2 linked regions of the Homo sapiens genome follow. Each later gene encodes a partner of the first gene's protein in a complex. Links are inferred from orthologs where the notes say so. Each region holds a gene or a part of one and is shown on either strand. Other genes may lie near its edges.

What was found. The genes of interacting proteins can lie anywhere in the genome.
Region 2: the proteins of MED1 (region 1) and RARB are in contact, whole or in part, in a crystal structure (PDB 1XDK), measured with the Mus musculus proteins. The link is inferred for Homo sapiens from one-to-one orthologs. Residues at the interface, in NP_001073587.1 of Mus musculus: His642, Pro643, Met644, Leu645, Met646, Leu648, Leu649, Lys650, Asp651; in NP_001276689.1 of Mus musculus: Ile264, Val267, Lys271, Phe276, Ile281, Gln284, Ile285, Leu288, Lys289, Pro435, Leu436, Glu439, Met440.

Annotation. Positions count from the first base shown.
Region 1 is NC_000017.11:39,416,634-39,420,383, forward strand, and holds part of MED1 (mediator of RNA polymerase II transcription subunit 1), read right to left. Parts: intron 3,286-3,750; coding exon 3,084-3,285; intron 1-3,083. UniProt on the Homo sapiens protein: Component of the Mediator complex, a coactivator involved in the regulated transcription of nearly all RNA polymerase II-dependent genes.
Region 2 is NC_000003.12:25,592,137-25,595,886, reverse strand, and holds part of RARB (retinoic acid receptor beta), read right to left. Parts: intron 2,385-3,750; coding exon 2,180-2,384; intron 1,368-2,179; coding exon 1,209-1,367; intron 1-1,208. UniProt on the Homo sapiens protein: Receptor for retinoic acid. Retinoic acid receptors bind as heterodimers to their target response elements in response to their ligands, all-trans or 9-cis retinoic acid, and regulate gene expression in various biological processes.

The DNA of each region.
Region 1 (3,750 bases):
TGTTATTACTCCAACTACTAAAAATTTCTCATTTCTAAAGCAATTTTTATTTCCATGAGAAGAATCTCCTGGCCCAGCACAGTGGCTCATGCCTGTAATCCCAACACTTTGGGACACTGAGGTGGGAGGAATGCCTGAGGCCAGGAGCTCAAGACTATCCTATACAACATGGCAAGACACCATCTCTACAAAAAAAATGTTGCTGTATAAATATGTACACTGAAATAAAAAGTATAATATAAATTTCTTTAAAATTTGACTAGATGTAGAGGTGCATGCCTATAGTCCAGCGACTTGAGGAGCCTGAGGGAAGAGTATCACTTGAGCCCAGGAGTTTGAGGCCAAAGTGAACTATGACTGTACCACTGCTTTCCAATCTCGATAACAGAGCAAGACCCTGTATCAAGAAAAAAAAGTCCAGGCATGGTGGCTCACGCATGTAATCCCAGCACTTTGGGAGGCCGAGGCAGGCAGACCACTGAGGTCACGAGTTCAAAACCAGCCTGGCCAACTCGACGAAACCCCGTCTCTGGTAAAACTACAAAGATTAGCCTGGCATGGTGGTGGATACTTGTAATCCGAGCTACTTGGGAGGCTGAAGCAAGAGAATTGCTTGAACCCAGGAGGCAAAGGTTGCAGTGAGTGAAGATCACACCACTGCACTCCAGCCTGGGTGACCAAGCAAGACTCCGTCTCAAAAAAAAAAACAAAAAGGCCAGGCGTGGTGGCTCATGCCTGTAATCCCAGCACTCTGGGAGGCTCAGGCGGGCAGATCACGAGGTCAGGAGATCGAGACCATCCTGGCCAACACGGTGACACCCCGTTTCTACTAAAAATACAAAAAAATTAGCCGGGCGTGATGGCGGGTGCCTGTAGTCCCAGCTACTCGGGAGGCTGAGGCAGGAGAATGACGTGAACTCAGGAGGCAGAGCTTGCAGTGAGCCGAAATTGCGCCACTGCACTCCAGCCTGGGCGACAGAGCGAGACTCCGTCTCAAAAAACAAACAAAAAATAAATAAATAAAAATAAAAGAGATCTGATTTGCCTTCCCTATTTCTTATTGTCTATCACTGGCACTGACACATATCTATCAACAGAGCGCTTCTGACTTAAGATTTTTAAAATTAACTATGGTTAGCTAGAACAGCCAAAATTTACAGCAAAGCTTCTAATAGCCAACTGTCTTTGAAAATCATCAGCATTTACGCCGGGTGCCATGGCTCACGCCTGTAATCCCAGCACTTTGGGAGGCCTAGGAGGGTGGATCACGAGGTCAGGAGTTCGAGACCAGCCTGGCCATGATGGTGAAACCCCATCTCTACTAAAAAAAATTTAAACAATTAGCCAGAGGCTGACGCAGGAGAATCGCTTGAACCTGGGAGGCGGAGGTTGCAGTGGGCCAAGATCATGCCACTGCACTCCAGCCTGGGGAACAGAGTGAGACTCCGTCTCAAAAAAAAAAAAAAAAAAAAAAAAATTCATCAGCATTCCAGAATCCTGAGAGAAAAAAGAGCTAAACCTTCTTAAAGCTGTAAGATTAAGTTCTCCAAACAATGGGGAGAGAAAACATACTCAGAACTAAACCTGGGAAGCACTCTCCTAACAACCTAAAATTTAACCTAAAACTGGCCAAGCACGGTGGCACCTATTATCCCAGCACCTTGGGAGGCCTAGTCAAGAGGATCGCTTCAGCCCAGGAGTTACAGACGAACATGGGCAACATAGAGAGACCCTGTCTCTACAGAAAAAATTAGCCAGGCTTGGTGGTACATGCCTATAGCCCCACCTACTTGGGAGGCTAAGGCAGGAGGATCGCTTGAGCCAAGGAGGTAGAGGCAGCAGAAAGCTGTTATCATGCCACTGTGGTTCAGTCTGGGCAACAGAGTGAGACCCTGTCTCAAAAAAAAAAAAGCCTCTCTCACTACAGCATTCCAAGTTCTACCTTATGTATATCTGCTACAGGGTACAGCCCCTAAAATACCCAGTTACATTACTATGTTCAGAAAAAGAGTTAAGAACATTGCAAAAAGCAGTGGTCTCCAAATGCTAGTCTACAGACTGGTTCCATCAAAATGATTTGTGGAGTTTAGATTCCCAACTCTTCCCACTGAGATTATCATTCAGTTCATCTTCGTGTGGAAACACAGCATCTGTGATTTTTTTTTTTTTTTTGAGAGGGAGTCTCATTCTGTCACCCACACTGGAGTACAGTGGCATGATCTAAGCTCAGTGCAACCTCCGCCTCCTGGGTTCAAGTGATTCTCCTGCCTAAGACTCCCAAGTAGCTGGGACTACAGGTGTATACCACCACACCCAGCTAATTTTTGTATTTTTAGTAGAGACTGGGTTTCACTAGTTGGCCAGGATGGTCTCAATCTCTTGACCTTGTGATCTGCCCACCTCGGCCTCCCAAAGTGCTGGGATTACAGGCACAAACCACTGCACTCAGCCTGGTGTTTTGTTTTTGATTCAGGGTCTTACTGTGTTACCCAGGTTGGAGTGCAGTGGTGCAATCTGAGCTCACTGCAATCTCTGCCTCCCAGGCTCAAGCGACAATCCTCCTGCCTCAGGATCCCGAGTAGCTGGGACCACAGGCGCACACCACCACAACTGGCTACTTTTTTCTAGAGATGGGGTTTTGCCATGTTCCTCAGACCGATCTCAAATCATGGGCTCAAGTGATTTGCCCACCTTGGCCTCCCAAAGTGCTGGGATTACAGGCGTGAGCCACCACACCTGGCCATCATCTGTAGTGTTAAAAGCTCCACATGTTTGAATTTTTTTTTTTTTTTGAGACAGAGTCTTGCTCTGTCACCCAGGCTGGAGTGCAATGGCATGATCTAAGCTCACTGCAACCCCCGCCTCCCGGGTTCAAGCGATTCTCCTTCCTCAGCCTCCCAAGTAGGTGGGACTACAGTCGTGCACCACCACGTGCAGCTAATTTGCTTGATTTTTATGCCAAATATGAAAAAAAAAAAACTTTTTTTAAGTTCTACAGGTGATTCTGATGGGCCACCAATTAAAGAACCACTGGAGAAGTAAGTTTCCATCTTCCAGTAAGCATATCAAAGGAAAGGCAGTACCTTCTTTCAGAATAGTTCTTTTGACACAGCTTCCAATGAGGGTGTTATAGGCCACTTGGTGTCTGATCAGATTTAGGATAAGAGGAACTCGGCCAGGGTGCTGAAAGGTGATTTTGCTAACAAGGGTTCCCTGTAGACTTCGGCCATCTGGAAGAGGAGCATCCTTGTTGAGGAAATAGCAGTGCTGCTGACCAGGAAGAGCCTGGGCAAAAAGAACAGTTAACGAGTGCTATTTAGTTACCTATTGTATTCCAACCACAAAGTATCCTGAAAAAACCTACTACTCAAAAAAGTGCAGAAAAGTCTCCACAGTGAATGTTTTCATCAGCTGATATTATAAATGTCAATCAATTACTAATTAGGCTGAAAAGATGTCTTTTTAGTAAATGCACTATGCTAGTGATTTCCTAACCTAGCTAACATAAAAACTACCTCAGAAATCTGTATTAAAGAGGTTCCTAAACCATAAATGCAAAATCTCTTTTTTTTTTTTTTTTTTTTGAGACAGAGTCTCCCTCTGTTGCCCAGGCTGGAGTGCAGTGGTGCGATCTCGGCTCACTGCAAGCTCCGCCTCCCGAGTTCATGCCATTCTCCTGCCTCAGCCTCCTGAGTAGCTGCGACTATAGGCACCCGCCACCACGCCCGGCTAATTTTTTTTGTATTTTTA
Region 2 (3,750 bases), on another chromosome or scaffold:
TTCCTGATGAAAGAAGTGTATCTTGAAAAAGACAGGTTGATGGCAGTTACCCACAAACAGAGGAGTTCACGATGTGCAGTGACTATTGACAACTAGATTTAGCAGCACTCTGTCCAGTACAATACCCACTAGGTAGCTAAATTTAAATTTGTTAAATAAAATGAGAAAAACAGTGCCTCAGTTGCATAAGCCACACTTCAAGTGCTCGAGAACCTCTTGTGTCTGGTGGCTACTGAACTGGACAGTACAGATTATTTCTGTAATTGCAGTAAATTCTATTAGATATCACTAGTCTAGTCATCTATACAGAATGATAGTATTATGTTAAACAGCCTCATTTTTAAAAATCAAAGATACCGTATTCACAACCACACTGGTATCTGCTGTTTACTTCTACTCTTAATTCCATGCAAGGATGAATTCAGAATGCTCATCTAGGAGACCTCTTAGAAGGAGCTCGAGTTAAGACTGCTTGTCAAACAAGTTCCCTGTGCTTTTAAGCACTTTCTGAAATACAGAGTTTATTCCTTGGCTAGCAAACATCTTCAGAGACAGAGTAAGTAGTCTGATGGGGAAAGGAGAATGACAATAGCCCATTTGGTACCAGGGATAGCTGCTGAGTTGTCTCTCTACATAGAAAAACCTTACTGTTAAACACTCAACTGTGATATGGATCTAGGCACCTCTATTAATTGCTTGAGTTGCTACATAAACAGAAAATCACTAGGCAAAGAATATACCTCTTAGGCAAGAATTCCTTTGCTTAGAAGTGTGCAGAAGAAAATCTGCCTATATACAAAAGAGCAATGGCTAAAGTGATTGAGAGAAACTTAACAAAGGTTTAGATATTCAAGAAAAACTGGAGTCAAGGTAACATAAACCAGAGATGTGTAGAAAGCTGGAATTAAATGTATGAACCTAGAGAATTAGCCTGTTTTAGTACATTCTCTTGAAAACAATGTTTTTCTAATCAGTCATGAATTTTAAAGCTCTCAATCGTTAAGATAATTGAATAGGGTAAGATTTGAGGTGTTTTTTTTTTTTTTTTAGAGGGGGGAGGGATAGTATTTCCTTTTGATTTCAATGAGAAATGAGTTCCAAGACTTTAAAAGCAGCCATTAAACATCCTGAATTGAATAAAGCAACACAACCTGGTAAGGCCCTCAAGTCCACTGTGTGACTACAGTACTGAGAGCACGAAGACATACCTTTAGCACTGATGCTACGGAGATCTGTGATTTTCATTAAGATCTTTGGAAACATGTGAGGCTTGCTGGGTCGTCTTTTTCTGATATAAATTTTTAGTGCTTCCAGCAATGGTTCTTGTAGCTTATCTACTTTTGTCGGTTCCTCAAGGTCCTGGCGGTCTGGATACCAGGAATAAAGTATTAAACAAAATCAGGATTTATGCCCTTTTCCCCTCTTCCTTGTTTCCTTATTCCTACTGTTATGAGTTCATTAATTTGGTAATTCAATTACATACACAAATTTGCAGACTTATGCAGTTGCTTTAAGCAGTGATACTTGAAAAACAAAAAAAAACTGCCCCCCCTTGGTAGTATAAACATTTTGATGCCTGGTTGCTTTTGTCCCAGGGAAAGAATTACCTCCTTTGACCAGAAGGTGTCACTACCAAACTGAATTAAAACAAATCTTGAGCAGGATGGTTATTTTAGCATAAAATAAATCTGCTCCTTAATTAAAACCATTACTTTTTAACCACTTACGATTCAGCCTCCTATAGGCCAGTAGGGGTCACTACAAAGAAGAAAGCTAAATTTTATCCCAGTCCTGCAAGGGTTGGTGGGAGGGCCCAGCCAAATACTTGTATGCCTACCCACTAGATAACAAACAGCACATACAAGTCCCTTGTCATCATTCAAATGTCCCCAGACAATTCATTTTATAATAGTGTGATCCTGCCTTTAAGAAAAAAAATCTGTGGCAATTGGAGTAATAGCTTTTTGGGATTTCTTTCTGAGCAGAAGGATCCCAAATACCATTAGTTAATTTGTAACAACATGGAAAAATACAATGAAACCAGGCATGTATGCCTGGCTTTATTCACATGTTTTCCCATGTAAAACAACTCCAAAAGGGAAATGAGGAATTTTTCACAAATTACAAGTATAAACTGTTCTTCATGGAATTTCATGAGGCTTTTCTACATAGTTGGTACCTCCACAGATTAAGCAGATGGCACTGAGAAGGCCTGTTTCTGTGTCATCCATTTCCAAAGGCAGGAGCTGGTTGGCAAAGGTGAACACAAGGTCAGTCAGAGGACCAAATCCAGCATTGTGCATCTGAGTTCGATTTAGGGTAAGGCCGTCTGAGAAAGTCATGGTGTCTTGTTCTGGGGTATACCTGGTGCAAATTCTAAGAATCTGGAAGGAAAAAAAAATTGATGGATGTTCTAAGCCATCCTGTCCTGAAATCATCAATCAGATGTAAGCAGGAAATAACATGAAGATTTCCAAGGAGCTCTTGGGGCAGTCTGTCCCCCTTTCACATGTTGAATGTCTTCTTTAGCTCTTTCATTAAGAGACTACAGAAGTCAAAACCCAGGGGCTAAAGTTTTTTAGGAAACACTAAACAGGACATAAGAAATTTTGAGAAATATCTTTTTAAAAGTAATTCATTACTTGACTCAAATAAACATTTACTGAGTGCCTAATTATGTCCCAGGCACTGTGCCAGGTGCTGGAGATAAAAAAAAAAAAAGATGAATAAGATTCTATTTTTTAAGAGCTTACAGTCTGCAATAAATGACAATTTATTAAATGCATAGTATATATCAAGTTTTGTACATACCCTACATTCAATCTTTCAAACAGCTTGGTAAAGTGAATATTATTCTTATTTTACAAATGAAGGACTTAAGGCTCAGAAAGGTTAGGTGATGTGCCCAATGTCACATAGTTAACATGTAACTGAATCTGACTCAAACCCAAGTTAGGCTCTCTCTCCCATGATGCCTCTGATCACACGGTTACACAGGCAGCTGTAATACAAGGGACATGAGTGAAACCAGCAAGGTACTAGGGAGTTCAGAAAAAGGAAAGCTCAGAAATAGCCAGGAGGAAATCAAGGGCAGATCCATAAAGAGGTAGCATTTCAACCGAACCCTAAAGTGTAGGCAGGATTTCTACAGGCAAAAAGCCTGAGTCACTCTGCCAGAGTCTCCCAGTCCCACCCAGTGTATGCTTGACACATAACCCTGTTGGCCCCCTGGGGCGCTAGCTACTAAGGAGACTCTTGCTCACTGCCCTGTGCCTCTAGGCCTCACTCAGAGCAAAACAAACTAAAAATGCCTTGCTTCTGTAGATACTCAATCCTGGTTCATGTTTCCACTGCCCTATTAAGCCTAAATGCTGGTAAGGAGCTCCGTGCATTGCAGAGCACTTCCCCACCCAGAACCACATTTCTGCACCGACAATAAAGGGTCTCTGCTGACCAGGTTTCCATACTTGACTTTTCTCTCTGAAAAAGTTTCAGAGCTGCTTGAAGCACAGAGAGAAGTAAATCCCACCTGGACAAAAGTGAATAACTCAGGAGGTTGAAGAAGTTGAAAGTTTTTCCCAGATAATGGCATTCAATTTGACTGGGTATAGTCCTGTGAATGTCCACCTCAGTGTCAACCTACAGGAGGGCAGATGTGATCAGAAAGGCCTGCATTATTCCTGTTACACAGCCATGTGCAGAGAGGAGTGGCCTCTGAGGAAGACACAGGACCTCTACCTAGGAGGAGTA